Linked DNA regions of Homo sapiens. The protein of the gene in region 1 purifies or fractionates together with the protein of each later gene. This does not show direct contact. Each region holds a gene or a part of one and is shown in the gene's direction. Other genes may lie near its edges.

Region 1 (4,163 bases):
TCAGTGTTTGCTGTACAGAATGGGATGTCAGGGGCAGCACAGACACAGAAGCACAGCGGTGGGAGGGCGGTGGGAGGGCTGTGGGCGGTACCAGGCTTGCATGGTGTGGTGTCCTTAGACCTCAGCAGGGAGCAGGCAGGAGCTGAGGCTGACTTCAGGTGGGTGCCTGAGAGCGCTGGCCTGAGAAGCTTGGTCTTGTAAGCAGTGGGCTTCCTAGGAGGGTTGCAGGTGGCACTGCTGAAATAGAGGAAATGCCTGCCCTAGGGCAGTGGCTGCAGAGGCCGGGTCCCGTGGGTGGGTTGGGAGATTTAGGGTGGGTGACTAGATAGAGCAGGTGCCAGTTTGAGGAGGAAGATGAGTTCTGTCCCTGCAAGACGAGGCTTCAGTGATGCCTCAGGGACAGCCACATGTTGATGCCTGGGAGGCAGCGGTCTCCTTGGTCCAAAAGGCTGGAGAGAGGACAGGATTGGCCGTGTGAGCCACGGGGCAGGAGTGTATGGGAGGGGGTGGGGTCAGAAACAGGAGAGGCTGGGCCTAGGCACTCCCCTGCAGCCCCCCTGCAGCCCAGGACCACAGCTCAGGAGGGATGGAAGAGGATGGAGCTGGAGAGGGAGGGGCAAGGGCACTGTGTGGGGTCAGAGAAGAGGAGAGGAAGAGGGGAACTGCTGCTGGGAAGCTAGGTGTGTTAGGGCCGGAGGAGACCCTCGGGCTTGGCTTGAAGGGTGGCTTTGGTGACCCTGGGGAGAGTGGTTTGGGACATGGGTTCAGGTGCAAGCCATACCACAGTGGGCCAGGGAACAGTGGCTGGGAGGGGCGGCTGGGTGTGGAAGTGGCCTGCAGGTGCACGGAGGGCGAGGCGCGACCGTGAGGCTGGGACTCTCGAGGGCATGCAGATGCCTTTCCAGAAGGCACGTGTCCCCGTGTGGGGTCAGGCGGACAGCCCCGCCGACCAGCGAGGCTGCCTGATTCTGACCCGTTCTTGTCACCCGCAGAGCTGCCATCAGTCATGCTCTTAAACGGGGACTGCCCAGAGAGCCTGAAGAAGGAGGCGGCGGCGGCCGAGCCACCCAGGGAAAATGGGCTTGACGAGGCCGGCCCGGGAGATGAGACCACCGGCCAGGAAGTCATTGTCATTCAGGACACGGGCTTTTCTGTGAAGATCCTCGCCCCTGGGATCGAGCCCTTCTCCCTGCAGGTAAGATGGAGGAACGGGTGCTGGGGGCCAGGCCTGAGCCTGCTGGGGAGGGTGAGCTGGAAAGCTCAGCCTTGCTCGTGCTCCTACCGGCCCCATTTTGTGGCAGGAAACTGAGGATCCCGTGCCCTCCCTAGAGTCACTCAGCTAGCGTGGTGGACGTGGGAATCGAGCCCAGGGTCAGGTCGTTGCCCCATTGCTAGAGGACAGCAACCAGCTGGGCCTGCCAGCCCTATGTGGGGAGGGGAGTGATAGTGGCTGGGAAGTGTTGGCATCCCAGGACTCCCCAGCCTCTTGCTCTGTGCCCTCAGGCAAGTCACCTCTCTCTGGGCCGTGATTTTACCATCTGCCAGAGGGGAGGGTAGTATTGGGTTATCTCCAAGGGCAGAGCCAGCGTGGAGGTCTTGCAAGCCGGTGACTCAGTGGGGAACGAGACAGGGTCGTCGTATGTCTCGGCACCCGCAGGCTTGGGCCCCAGAGCACCCCTTCTGGAAGGGGAAAGCCATTTGCCCCAGGCACCTTAGCACTGGGCAAGGCCGGGGGCGAGCCTGCCGTCTTCTGTCCCGCTGTTCTTCATCTCCCTTCTCTGCTCGGGCATTGCTCTGGGTCTGCAGGCCGAGTCGGTGGGCCAGGCTCCAGGCTGCACACACAGGGCATGGCATGTGTGGACATGGCCTGGATTTAAAAGCCAGAAAGTGGGATAGCCGATATTCGAGTATTTGGGGCATTTATTCTGGGGACCAAGGTACTTTGGGCTGGGGACAAGGGGATATTGTCCTTGCTGTCCGCTACGTGGCCTCTCACCGGGGCGGTTGGGGCCTTCTCTCCCCGCTACGTGCTCTCTCACCGGGGTGGGCGGGGCCTTCTCCCTGCAGGTGTCCCCCCAGGAGATGGTGCAGGAGATTCACCAGGTGCTCATGGACCGGGAGGACACGTGTCACCGCACCTGCTTCTCACTGCACCTGGATGGCAACGTGCTGGACCACTTCTCGGAGCTGCGCAGCGTCGAGGGGCTGCAGGAGGGCTCTGTGCTGCGTGTGGTGGAAGGTTGGTCTGGAAGTTGGACAGCCTGCCCGGGGGAGGGCCCACGGAGGCAGAGGCAGGCAGCACCATCCATGCCAGGGTCCCTGTGTCACGGATGAGCTCATGGAGGCAGGATTGGAGCACAGATCTGCTTCTCAGGCCAGCACACCTATATCTGCCAACTTCACGGCCCATGGGTTAAAGAACAGAGCCGTGGGCTGGGCATGGTGGCTCACGCCTGTAATCCCAACACTTTGGGAGGCCAAGGCGTGTGGATCACCTGAGGTCAGGAGTTGGAGACTTGCCTGGCCAACATGGTGAAACCCCATCTCTACTAAAAATACAAAAAGTTAGCTGCGCGTGGTGGCAGGTGCCTGTAATCCCAGCTACTCGGGAGGCTGAGGCAGGAGAATCACTTGAACCTGGGAGGCAGAGGTTGCAGTGTGCCCGGATCGTGCCACTGCACTCCAGCATGGGCAACAAGAACGAAACTCCGTCTCAAAAAAAAAAACAAAACAAAAGAACAGAGCCGTGATTCTAAAAAAAAAAAATCAGGCAGTACCATCCCAGGGCGTGAAGTCAGCGCAGTTCAGTTCTGTAGAGATCCATGAGAAGTCCCAAACGTTTCCTAGCCCTAGAGTGGGGAGGTCGGGCACGGGGAGGTGCCATCCGGTTGGTCTGTGGCCTCGAGTTTTCTGGGTAGAAGCTGCTTGGGTTCCACCCCAGGGCCTGTCCGCCTGTTGAGAGCAGTGACGGAAAAGGTCTGTAGCTCAACAGCGCCCACAGTTGATCACGGAACCTCTCCCCTCCACCAAAAGAACTGCCATTAAAATCCCATGAAACCACATAGGGGCAGTGTTGACATTGGGGGCCTTGGAAAGTCCTCAGGCCACCCCTACATGAGGCTGCCTCGGGAGAGCAGGGCAAGGCTGTGGTGTGGAAGTCCCACAGCTCCAAAAGCCCTGCCCAGCCGACACACTGGCGCACAAAAGCAGGCAGCCTTGTGGACGCCTGAGGCCTGTGTGTGCTTCAGAGGCATTTGGCAGAAAGTTCTTTATAAACAAAGATCCCTGCTCACCAGTAGGCAGAGTGTGTGTGTGTGTGTGTTTGTGGTGTCAAAACCAGAACTCCAGCTTATGTGTTCACAGTGGAATTTGAAAACGGAAACCTAAAGTTGAAAATTAAAACCACTGTGTTAGCACCTCCAAAACCTGTTTTGTGCTGGGCAGGTTGTTCAGGGTGCAGGGCCCTGGTAACGCCATACCCTCCCTGCCTTCCTGACAGAGCCGTACACGGTGCGTGAGGCCCGCATCCACGTGCGCCATGTCCGAGACCTGCTCAAGAGCCTGGACCCATCCGATGCCTTCAACGGGGTTGACTGCAACTCCTTGTCCTTCCTGAGTGTCTTCACCGACGGCGACCTGGGAGGTGCGGGAGGCACTGGGGCCGGGGATTGGGCCAAAGGGCGGGGAGCACGGAGGTGGGGGGCTGGAGAAGGGGCCGAGGGGCCTGGGCCTGAGGCACCCGGACCACGGCCATCAGGAGGTAGGGAGACAGCTGGCCCTGGGTGGCCCTGTGCTGACCACCAGCCTCGGGTCCCTCAGACAGCGGGAAGCGGAAGAAGGGCTTGGAGATGGACCCCATCGACTGCACACCACCCGAGTACATCCTGCCAGGGAGCCGGGAGCGGCCACTGTGTCCCCTGCAGCCCCAAAACCGTGACTGGAAGGTAGGATCCTGGGGGAGGGAGGAAGAGGGTCCCTGGCGGGGTGGAGGCCCCACACCAGAGGCCTGGCCCCTCAGACTCGGCCGCTCCCGAAGCCCTTGCAGTGCCTGAAAGTACTCACCATGAGCGGATGGAACCCGCCCCCGGGGAACCGGAAGATGCACGGGGACCTCATGTACCTGTTTGTGATCACAGCCGAGGACCGGCAAGTCAGCATCACCG
Region 2 (3,831 bases), on another chromosome or scaffold:
AGCATAGTTTGAAGTCAAGTAGCATGATGCCTCCAGCTTTGTTGTTTTTGCTTAGGATTTTTTTGGCTGTATGGGGTTTTTTTTTTTGGTTCCACATGAAATTTAAAGTAGTTTTTTCTAATCTGGGTAGAAAGTCAATGGTAGCTTGATGGGAAAAGCATTGAATCTATAAATTACTTTGGGCAGTATGGCCATTTTCATGATATTGATTCTTCCTATCCATGAGCATGGAATGTTTTTCCACTTGTTTGTGGCCTTTCTTACTTCCTTGAGCAGTGGTTTTTAGTTCTCCTTGAAGAGGTCCTTCACATCCCTTGTAAGTTGTATTCCTAGATATTTTATTTTATTTGTAGCAATTGTGAATAGAAGTTCACTCATGATTTAGCTCTCTACTTGTCTATTATTGGCATATAGGAATGCTTGTGATTTTTGCACATTGATTTTGTATCCTGAGACTTTGCTGAAGTTGCTTATTAGCTTAAGGAGTTTTGGGGCCGAGACATAGGGGTTTTCTAAATATGCAATTATGTTATCTGCAAACAGAGACAATTTGACTTCCTCAGTTCCTATTTGAATACCCTTTATTTCTTTCTATTGCCTGATTGCCCAGGCTAGAACTTCCAATACTATGTTGAATAGGAGTGGGGTGAGAGGGCATGCTTGTCTTTTTCCGGTTTTCAAAGGGAATGCTTCCAGCTTTTGCCCATTCAGTATGATATTGGCTATGGGTTTGTCATAAATAGCTCTTATTATTTTGAGATATGTTCCATCAATACCAAGTTTATTGAGAGTTTTTAGCATGAAGGAGTGTTGAACTTTATCAAAGGCCTTTTCTGCATCTATTGGGATAATCATGTGGTTTTTGTCACTGGTTCTGTTTATGTGATGGATTACATTTATTGATTTGTGTATGTTGAACCAGCCTGCATCCTGGGGCTGAAACTGACTTGATCATGGTGGATAAGCTTTTTGATGTGCTGCTGGATTTGGTTTGCCAGTATTTTATTGAGGGTTTTCACATTGATGTTCATCAGGGATAAAACTGGCTAGCCATATACAGAAAACAGAAACTGTACCCCTTCCTTACACCTTATACAAAAATTAGCTCAAGATGGACTAAAGACTTAAATGTAAAACCTAAAACCATAAAAACCTGAGAGGAAAACCTAGGCAATACCATTCAGGATATAGGCATGGGCAAAGACTTCATGACTAAAACACCAAAAGCAATGGCAACAAAAGTCAAAATTGACAAATGGCCTCTAATTAAACTAAAGAGCTTCTGCACAGCAAAAGAAACTATCATCCAAGTGAACAGGCAGCCTAGAGAATGGGAGAAAATTTTTGCAATCTATCCATCTGACAAAAGTCTAGTATCCAGAATCTAAAGGAACTTAGACAAATTACAAGAAAAAAAAAACCCATCAAAAAGTGGGCAAAGGATATGAACAGACGCTTCTCAGAAGAAGACATTTATGTGGCCAAAAAACATATGATAAAAAGCTCATCACCACTGTTAATTAGAACAATGCAAATCAAAACCACAATGAGATACCATCTCATGCCAGTTAGAGTGGTGATCAAAAAAGTCTGGAAACAACAGCTGCTAGTGAGGATGTGGAGAATAGGAACACTTTTACACTGTTGGTGGGAGTGTAAATTAGTTCAACCATTGTGGAAGACAATGTGGCAATTCTTCAAGGATCTAGAATCAGAAATACCATTTGACCCAGCAATCCCATTACTGGGTGTATACCCAAAGGTTTTTAAGTCATTTTACTGTAAAGACACATGCACACATATGTTTATTGCAGCACTATTTACAATAGCAAAGACTTGGAACCAATCCAAATCCCCATCAATGATAGACTGAATAAAGAAAGTATGGCACATATACACTGTGGAATACCATGCAGCCATAAAAAAGAATGAATTCATGTCCTTTGCAGGGACATGGATGAAGCTGGGAGCCATCATTCTCAGCAGACTAACACAGGAACAGAAAACCAAACACCGCATGTTCTCACTCATAAGTGGGAGTTGAACAATGAGAACACATGAACACAGGGAAGGGAACATCACACACCCAGGCCTGTTGGGGGATGGGGGATGGGGAGGGAGAGCAGTAGGACAAATACCTAATGCATGCAGGGCTTAAAACCTAGATGACAGGTTGATGGGTGCAGTAAACCACCAGGGCACATAGTATACCTATGTAACAAACTTGCACATTCTGCACATGTATCCCAGAACTTAAAGTAAAATAAAATAAAAAATTATTACTTTGTAGTAAACTGAAATATTTTTAATATATTTTGTAGGAAATTAAAATGTTGATGTAGATTTCAAATTTGCACACTAATTCAGATCAGTCTAGTAGTAATAGATGATATTTTAAAATACATGAACTCCAGTAATCATTATAAACTTCCTTTATTAAGAAAGGGACTCAAAAGGCTTCATGAAGATGAGGGCCCCATTTTCATTTCCAAGGGACAAACTAATCTTTGATATATGATATTTGAGTTCAGAATTGCTTTTGGCAAACATAATTGTTACTGCTTAAACAAGTAGTTCTTTTCTAGTAATTAGAATTTTTTTTTCATTTTAATGGGTAGTCATAAATATTAACCACCAGCAGTGCAGGAATAATTTAAATTGTCAGACATCACTCTGTGAACACGTGAAATAATTTACATTTATTTAGAACCTTTTATCCTAAAGTGCTCTACACATATTTCTTTATAATCTGATTGCAAGCTATAAATAGGGCTATCCCACCTGAAATAGGGCAGGAACCAAAGTAATTAAAGGTTACAACTTCACAAGAAGTAGGGAAAGATGGAAATGTAGTATTTTTTACATTATTTCTATGTGCTCTATGCCTGTAGGATTGGAGAATCCATGTTGACCAAATGCACCAGCACAGAAGTGGAATTGAATCTGCTCTAAAGGAGACCAAGGTATATGAATTACTTTACGTGAATCAATGTACATTTACTCATCTGTGGAACACCTGTTATAAGAGAACATGAAAGAATAAAAAGACACAATTTTTGCCTTTAAGGAACTTACTAATTGAATGTACCGTGTTACATTTCAACTGACCTTACATTTAAACCAACTAAAGAAAGCTAACTTACATATTAATAAAAGCTATATATATGTATATATATAAGATATATATGTATAATATATAGATAATACATATATTAGAGAGAAACATTTCATCATCCTTTCCTCTCTGAATCTTAAAGGAGGAAAGAACACCAGACCAGCAAGGTCTAGAACTTACAGCCTCCGCAGGCTTGCTGTCCTGCCAGAAACAAGGACTTTGGAGAATGTCACAAAGAAGCAAAGCTAGACTGAAAAGTTATGTGTCCCAGGCTAGAGCTATAGGCTTAGGGATCTATTTCCAACTGGAATATTTCAGTCACCTTTGAATCGTGCTATAGGAAACTCACGTTATTCCCTTACTTTGATTGTGAATGTTATATAATGCTAATTATAGTCACATAAATTTTATGGTATGTATAATGACAAATGAATTGACTAACACTGCCAGGTGCATTTTTATTCTAAAACTCTTCTAAGTGTGGTTAAAATATTTCTCATCACAGATATTTTGTGCTATTGAAAATTTCAAGCTGTCTTCTTTTGCACATGTAGTTGATTATTTGTAGAATGGATTGAGATGTAACCCATTTTTAATATTTTTGAAAAAATATGTTTGTGAGTTCTTCTATCTGCAAATTCCATGGAATTTCTAGGGATTTTTGGACAAACTCCATAATGAAATTACTAGGACTTTGGAAAAGATCAGCAGCCGAG
Region 3 (3,831 bases), on another chromosome or scaffold:
GGTGGCACATGCCTGTAATCCTAGCTGCTTGGGAGGCTGAGGCATGAGAATCGCTTGAACCTGCGAGCCAGAGGTTGCAATGAGCCGTGATCACGCCACTGCACTCCAGCCTGGGTGACTGAGCAAGACTCCATTTCAAAAAAAAAAACCCAACTTTTCTTCATCTAATGCTATACCCAAACTGATTCTTGTGCCTTGTCTTCCAGTATAGTTGAGAAATATATGATAGGCAGTGGCTCATGTCTATAATCCCAACATTTAGGGTGGCCAAGGTGGGGTGATATTGCTTGAGGCCAGGGGTTCAAGACCAGCTTGGGCAACATGGCGAGACCCCCATCTCTACAAAATAAAGTAAAATAAATTAACTGGGTGTGGTGGCATGTGCCTGTAATCCCAGCTACTTGGGAGGCTGAGGTGGGAAGAGCACTTGAGCCTAGGAGTTGCAGGCTGCAGTGAACATGATCATGCGTACCACTGTACTCCAGCCTGGTCAACAGAGTGAGACCTTGTCTCAAAAAAAAAAAAAAAATACATGAGAATTGACTCCCAAATACCTCCCTCTTATATCAATTTAATACTTTGAGTTGCCATAATGCTCAATTTCTAAATCTGATTTTCCCTCCCTTCATCAATCCAGTCTAAGGGAAGCCTGGAGATAACAGAGAGCCAGTCTGCAGATGCTGAACCTCCACCTCCTCCTAAGCCAGACCTGAGCCGTTACACAGGGTTGCGAACACACCTCGGCTTGGCTACTAATGAGGGTAAGGGCTGCCTTGATTTGCAAGATACTAGAACTAGGGGCAGGATTGAGAAGGTTGCTTATGAGCTGTGGAAGACAGGCAAGGGCTGGGAGATATTACTCGTGTTGTGACTTTAAACACCCAACAGTTGGTACTTGTGCTACTTTGCAACTGAAAGAGAAGAGAGGCCATTTAGCTATTGGCAGTGAATGGGACTTTTGCCGGGAAAATGGTCAGCCTCTAGGCAGACCAGAGAACATCACAGAACCTTTTTGGTGCATTTACCCACCCTGAATTCTGGGCTGGTGTGAGTCTTTAAAAGTCTTGATTTCAGCGAAGGGTATATCTATTCCTACCTTGTCCTCTCCCTGTACTTAAGGAACCCTAGGCAGATAAAGTGAACAACTCATAGACTAGACGCAGTGGCTCACACCTGTGATCCCAGCACTTTGGGAGGCCAACGCAGGAGGATTGCTTGAGCCCAGGAGTTCAAGACCACCCTGGGCAACATAGCAAGACTCTGTCTCTACAAAAAATTTAAAAAAGTTAGCTGGGCATGGTGGCATATGCCTGCAGTCCCAGCTACTCAGGAGGCTGAGGTGGGAGCCCAGGAGTTCAAGGCTCCAGTGAGCTATAATCGTGCCACTGCACTCTAGCTTGGACAGTAGAGTGAGACCCTGTCTCTTAAACCAAAAAACCGCTTGTAAAATAGTGCCCCCTTGGCCTTTTTTCTTGCAGATAGTAGCTTATTGGCCAAGGACAGCCCCCCGACACCTACCATGTACAAGTATCGGCCGGGTTACAGTAGCAGCAGTACGTCAGCTGCCATGCCGCATTCCTCCAGCGCCAAGGTACTGAGTACTCTAAGAGGTGGGGTAATAACATGCCAACTGGCCAGGCACAGTGGCTCATTCCTGTAATCCCAGCACTTTGGGAGCCCAAGGTGGGTGGATCACAAGGTCAAGAGATTGAGACCGTCCTGGCCAACATGGTGAAACCCCGTCTCTACTAAAAATACAAAAATTAGGCCAGGCGTGGTGGCTCACGCCTGTAATCCCAGCACTTTGGGAGGCCGAGACTGGTGGATCACAAGGTCAGGAGTTCGAGACCAGCCTGGCTAATGTGGTGAAACCCCATCTCTACTAAAAATACAAAAATTGCCGGGCACAGTGGCTCACGCCTGTAATCCCAGCACTTTGGGAGGCTGAGGCAGGTGAATCACGAGGTCAGGAGATTGAGACCATCCTGGCTAACATGGTGAAACCCCGTCTCTACTAAAAATACAAAAAAATTAGCCAGGCATGGTGGCAGGTGCCTGTAGTCCCAGCTACTCGGGAGGCTGAGCCAGGAGAATGGCGTGAACCCAGGAAGCGGAGCTTGCAGTTAGCCGAGATCATGCCACTGCACTCCAGCCTGGGCAGCAGAGCGAGACCGCATCTCAAAAAAAAAATAAATAAATAAATACAAAAATTATCTGGGCGTGGTGGGGGGGCACCTGTAATCCCAGCTATTCGGGAGGCTGAGGCAGGAGAATCACTTGAATCTGGGAGGTGGAGGTGGCAGTGAGTCGAGATTGCGCCACTGCACTCCAGTCTGGGTGACAGAGTGAGAGTCCATCTCAAAAAAAAAAAAAAAAAATTAGCTGGTAGTGGTATGCATCTGTAGTCCCAGCTACTTGGCAGGCTGAGGCAAGGAGAATCGCTTGAACCTGGGAGGAGAATTGCTTGAACCTGGGAGGTGGAGGCTGCAGTGAGCTGAGCTCCCACTGCTGTATTCCAGTCTGGTGACAGAGTGAGACTACACCTCAAAAAAAAAAAAAAAAAAAAAAAGGCCAAGCACAGTGGCTCAAGCCTGTAATCCCAGCACTTGGGGAGGCTGAGGCAGACGGACCACCCGAGGTCAGGAGTTTGAGACCAGCCTGGCCAACTTGGTGAAACCCTGTCTCTACTAAAAATACAAAAATTAGCTGGGCGTGGTGGCGGGGCGCCTGTAATCCCAGCTACTCGGGAAGCTGAGGCAGGAGAATCGTTTGAACCTGGGAGGCTGAGGTTGCAGTGAGCCAAGATTGCACCATCACGCTCCAGCCTGGGCTTAAAACACACACACACACACACACACACACACACAAACAAATGCCAACTGTTACGGGAAAAAAAGAAGATTAGGGGAAGGAAAAGGCAGAAGAAAGGACATTTCACTAATTGTTGGCATTCGTGGAACTCAATCTCCTTGATACTGTGTCCTTCATCAGACTGGGCAATATAGCATAATAGATTAGTGCTTGATCCGAGTTTATAACCCAGTTCTGCCCACGGGCGAGATACTCAGCCTTTCTACGTCTTGCTTTCTGTATCTGAAAAGGAGATGATATTTGCCTGAATTCAGTTTTTCTTGAGGGATTAACCCAGATAATGCATGTAAGAGTTCTAAGCTTATTATTGGCACATAATTCTCTTTTTGACCAACTCCTTGAGCTCTGGGGTCTAGCTTCTGTCACAAAAGGAGCACTAAGAGCCTGCTTTACTTTCTTCCTCAGTTGAGTCGTGGGGACAGCTTGAAGGAGCCAACCTCAATTGCAGAGAGCAGCCGTCACCCCAGCTACCGCTCAGAGCCCAGCTTGGAACCAGAGAGCTTCCGTTCTCCTACCTTTGGCAAAAGTTTTCACTTCGATCCACTATCCAGTGGCTCACGCTCCTCCAGCCTCAAGTCAGCCCAGGGCACAGGCTTTGAGCTGGGCCAGTTGCAATCCATTCGTTCAGAGGGCACCACCTCCACCTCCTATAAGAGCCTGGCCAACCAGACACGCAATGGAAGCCTATCTTATGACAGCTTGCTCACACCTTCAGACAGCCCTGATTTTGAGTCAGTGCAGGCAGGGCCTGAGCCAGACCCACCTTTAGGCTATACCTCTCCCTTCCTGTCAGCCAGGCTGGCCCAGCAACGGGAAGCTGAGAGGCACCCACGTTTGGTGCCAACTGGCCCAACACACCGAGAGCCCTCACCAGTCCGTTACGACAATCTGTCGCGCCACATTGTGGCCTCTCTCCAGGAACGAGAGAAGTTGCTGCGCCAGTCACCCCCACTCCCGGGC
Region 4 (3,831 bases), about 26 Mb from region 1:
ATCGTCCTTGTACCATCTCCACTGGGGCAGCAACAAGACATGATATTTGAGGCCCGTTTAGATACCATGGCAGAGACAAACAGCATATCTTTAAATGGACCTTTGAGAACAGACGATCTGGTGAGAGAGGAGGTGGCACCCTGCATGGGAGACAGGTTTTCAGAAGTTGCTGCTGTATCTGAGAAACCTATCTTTCAGGAATCTCCGTCCCATCTCTTAGAGGAGTCTCCACCAAATCCCTGTTCTGAACAACTACATTGCTCCAAGGAAAGCCTGAGCAGTAGAACTGAGGCTGTGCGTGAGGACTTAGTACCTTCTGAAAGTAACGCCTTCTTGCCTTCCTCTGTTCTCTGGCTTTCCCCTTCAACTGCCTTGGCAGCAGATTTCCGTGTCAATCATGTGGACCCAGAGGAGGAAATTGTAGAGCATGGAGCTATGGAGGAAAGAGAAATGAGGTTTCCCACACATCCTAAGGAGTCTGAAACAGAAGATCAAGCACTTGTCTCAAGTGTGGAAGATATTCTGTCCACATGCCTGACACCAAATCTAGTAGAAATGGAATCCCAAGAAGCTCCAGGCCCAGCAGTAGAAGATGTTGGTAGGATTCTTGGCTCTGATACAGAGTCTTGGATGTCCCCACTGGCCTGGCTGGAAAAAGGTGTAAATACCTCCGTCATGCTGGAAAATCTCCGCCAAAGCTTATCCCTTCCCTCGATGCTTCGGGATGCTGCAATTGGCACTACCCCTTTCTCTACTTGCTCGGTGGGGACTTGGTTTACTCCTTCAGCACCACAGGAAAAGAGTACAAACACATCCCAGACAGGCCTGGTTGGCACCAAGCACAGTACTTCTGAGACAGAGCAGCTCCTGTGTGGGTAAGCGCCCCTATGTCCTTGCACCTCGTGAGTTCCATTACCCTGGACCTTCCCCTCCCATCCCTTCCCCTCCTTTTCTTTTCGTCATGTTCTTCTCTTTCTGCTGCAGCCGGCCTCCAGATCTGACTGCCTTGTCTCGACATGACTTGGAAGATAACCTGCTGAGCTCTCTTGTCATTCTGGAGGTTCTCTCCCGCCAGCTTCGGGACTGGAAGAGCCAGCTGGCTGTCCCTCACCCAGAAACCCAGGACAGTAGCACACAGACTGACACATCTCACAGTGGGGTAAGAAGGTTCCTCTCAAAGCTTGAGGGATCCCAGTGGGGATCCTTGGAATTTAAGCTGAGAAGCTGCCAGAGGGCAAAGGGGACTCCTATCACAGGCTTATACTTAGAACATTTGCAAAAGCTGAGAATCTGGGCAGTCACAATGGCTGATGCCTGTAATCCCACTGCTTTGGGAGGCCAAGGTGGGAGGACTGCTTGAGGCCAGGCATTTGAAACCAGCTTGGGCAACACAGCGAGATCCCATCCCTACAAAAGATTTTTAAAAAATCAGCTGGATATGGTTTTGCATGCCTCACTACTCAGGAGGCTGAGGCAGGAGGATCATTTGAGCCCAGGAGGCTAAGGCTGCAGTGAGCTATGATCATGGGCAAGACAGTGAAACCCTGTCTCTTAAAACAAAAAAGCTGAGGATCTGGAAAATCCCCTTAAAGCTGTGGGTAGTCACTCTACCCCTGGGGTACATCAGAACTTTCCAAAGGAGTGCAAGCAAGGAAACTTTTAAAGGAATTGGTTTTTAGATCATCATCTTCCACAAGTATTCTTTTTCTTCGTTTTTTGCATTGGTAGACTATATTTAATATTTTAAGAAAAATTATGAATAAGCCTAAAACATTTTTTAAAATAATTTTTAATTTTTGTGGTTACAGAGTTAGGTAAATATATTCATGGAGTCCATGAGATGTTTTGATATAGGCATGTGATGGTCAATAATCACATCATGGAAAATGGAAAATGGAGTATCTGTATCTGTCCCCTCAAGCATTTATCCTTTGTGTTACAAGCAATCCAATTATACTTTTAGTTTTTTTTTTTTTTTTTTTTTTTTTGAGACGGAGTCTCACTCTGTCACCCAGGCTGGAGTGCAATGGCCTGGTCTCGGCTCACTGCAACCTCTGCCTCCCAGGTTCAAGCGATTCTCCTGCCTCAGCCTCCTGAGTAGCTGGGACTACAAGCGCATGCCACCCCACCCGGCTAATTTTTGTATTTTTAGTAGAGACAGGGTTTCACTATGTTGGCCAGGCTGGTCTCGAACTCCTGCCCTCATGATCCACCTGCCTCAGCCTCCCAAAGTGCTGGGATTACAGGCGTGAGCCACTGCGCCTGGCCCCTGTTGTTTATGTGAAGAAGATTTCTCAGTGTTTACATCTGTCAGAATGGAAAGGAGTCAGCTGGCATAGTGGCTCACCCCTGTAATCTCAGTACTTTGGGAGGGTGAGGTGGGAGGATCGCTTGAGCTCAGGAGTTCAAGACCAGCCTGAGAAGTATGGTGAAACCTCATCTCTACAAAAAAATACAAAAATTAGCTGGGTGTGGTGGTGTGTGCCTGTAGTCCCAGCTACTTGGAAGGCTGAGGTGGAGGATCACTTGAGGCTAGGAGTTCAAGGCTGCAGTGAACTGAGATCTTGACACTGCACTCCAGCCTGGGCAACAGAGCCAGACCCTGCCTCAAAAAACAGAGTCACGAATTGTTGCTGAACTATTTCTTATTGCTGGAATTATAGTAATCCACAGATATACGAACTAATAAGGGGAAGGAATCTCCATCGATTTCATTAATAGGTGATTCCCAATTAAATTTTGCCGAGCATGTTTATTTTATTAGAAATTATATTACAGTGACTAATATACAACTGATTAAAAGATTTCTCTATCCTAAAGAAAGCTTTTTCACTTTAAAGCCTTCCGGTCAAAGGAATTTAAAGGAAATTTTAATTTAAATTTAGATGAACTTTCATTGTTGTTGCAGAGATGATGGTTAATAACAGATTTTATTTTTATTTTTTGAGATAGTTTCTTGGTCTGTCACCCAGGCTAGAGTACCATGTTGCGATCAGGGCTCACTGAAGCCTCAGCTTCCTTGGCTCAGGTGATCCTCCCACCTCAGCCTCCTGGGTAGCTAGGACTGTAGGTGTATGCCACCACACCTACCTAATTTTTTTGTATTTTTAGTAGAGATGGGGTTTTGCTATGTTGGCCAGGCTGTTCTCAAACCCCTGGGCTCAAGTGATCTGCTAGCCTTTGCCTCCCAAAGCACTGGGATTACAGGTGTGAGCCACTGTGCCCAGCTAATAACATACTTTAAAGCATAAAAATATATTACATTAGGCTGAAATTCTGAGAAAAATAAAAAATATATGTTCAAAGAGAAAAAGGGATGACATAATAAAATTTCTGACTGCTAAGAAGAGCTTTTTCTTGTATTTTTAAAAGATAGCAACTAGGTATCTCATCATTTTGGTGTATGTAGTATTTATGCCACTGGATATATTTAAGAGTAATCTAATAATTTTATTTTAGGCTGGGCATGGTGGCTCATACCTGTAATCCCAACACTTTGGGAGGCCGAGGCGGGAGGATCACCTGAGGTCAGGAGTTCAAGACCAGCCTGGCCAACATGGCGAAACCCCGTCTTTACTAAAAATACAAAAATTAGCTGGGTGTGGTGGAGGGCACCTGTAATTCCAGCTACTTGGGAGGCTGAGGCATGAGAATCGCTTGAACCCGGGAGGCAGAGGTTGCAGTGAGCCAAGATCGCGCCACTGCACTCCAGCCTGGAGGATAGAGTAAGACTCTGTCTCAAAAAAAAAAAAAATTATTTTAAATTGTCAATATTGGTAATATGCTGGACATTACAGCCTTTGCAACAATTTAAACTTAAGGGTACTTAGT

Evidence for each region.
Region 2: the proteins of CLUH (region 1) and IFT57 purify together in Homo sapiens (co-immunoprecipitation; one large-scale study listed by IntAct). This does not show direct contact.
Region 3: the proteins of CLUH (region 1) and ZDHHC5 purify together in Homo sapiens (co-immunoprecipitation; one large-scale study listed by IntAct). This does not show direct contact.
Region 4: the proteins of CLUH (region 1) and SPAG5 purify together in Homo sapiens (affinity purification with mass spectrometry; 2 studies listed by BioGRID and IntAct, with this or other methods). This does not show direct contact.

Annotation. Positions count from the first base shown.
Region 1 is NC_000017.11:2,701,394-2,705,556, reverse strand, and holds part of CLUH (clustered mitochondria protein homolog), read left to right. Parts: intron 1-992; coding exon 993-1,195; intron 1,196-2,067; coding exon 2,068-2,239; intron 2,240-3,499; coding exon 3,500-3,643; intron 3,644-3,819; coding exon 3,820-3,944; intron 3,945-4,036; coding exon 4,037-4,163. UniProt on the Homo sapiens protein: mRNA-binding protein involved in proper cytoplasmic distribution of mitochondria.
Region 2 is NC_000003.12:108,166,925-108,170,755, reverse strand, and holds part of IFT57 (intraflagellar transport protein 57 homolog), read left to right. Parts: intron 1-2,891; coding exon 2,892-2,963; intron 2,964-3,770; coding exon 3,771-3,831. UniProt on the Homo sapiens protein: Required for the formation of cilia. Plays an indirect role in sonic hedgehog signaling, cilia being required for all activity of the hedgehog pathway.
Region 3 is NC_000011.10:57,695,283-57,699,113, forward strand, and holds part of ZDHHC5 (palmitoyltransferase ZDHHC5), read left to right. Parts: intron 1-637; coding exon 638-761; intron 762-1,478; coding exon 1,479-1,591; intron 1,592-3,276; coding exon 3,277-3,831. UniProt on the Homo sapiens protein: Palmitoyltransferase that catalyzes the addition of palmitate onto various protein substrates such as CTNND2, CD36, GSDMD, NLRP3, NOD1, NOD2, STAT3 and S1PR1 thus plays a role in various biological processes including cell adhesion, inflammation, fatty acid uptake, bacterial sensing or cardiac functions.
Region 4 is NC_000017.11:28,589,026-28,592,856, reverse strand, and holds part of SPAG5 (sperm-associated antigen 5), read left to right. Parts: coding exon 1-875; intron 876-984; coding exon 985-1,159; intron 1,160-3,831. UniProt on the Homo sapiens protein: Essential component of the mitotic spindle required for normal chromosome segregation and progression into anaphase. Required for chromosome alignment, normal timing of sister chromatid segregation, and maintenance of spindle pole architecture.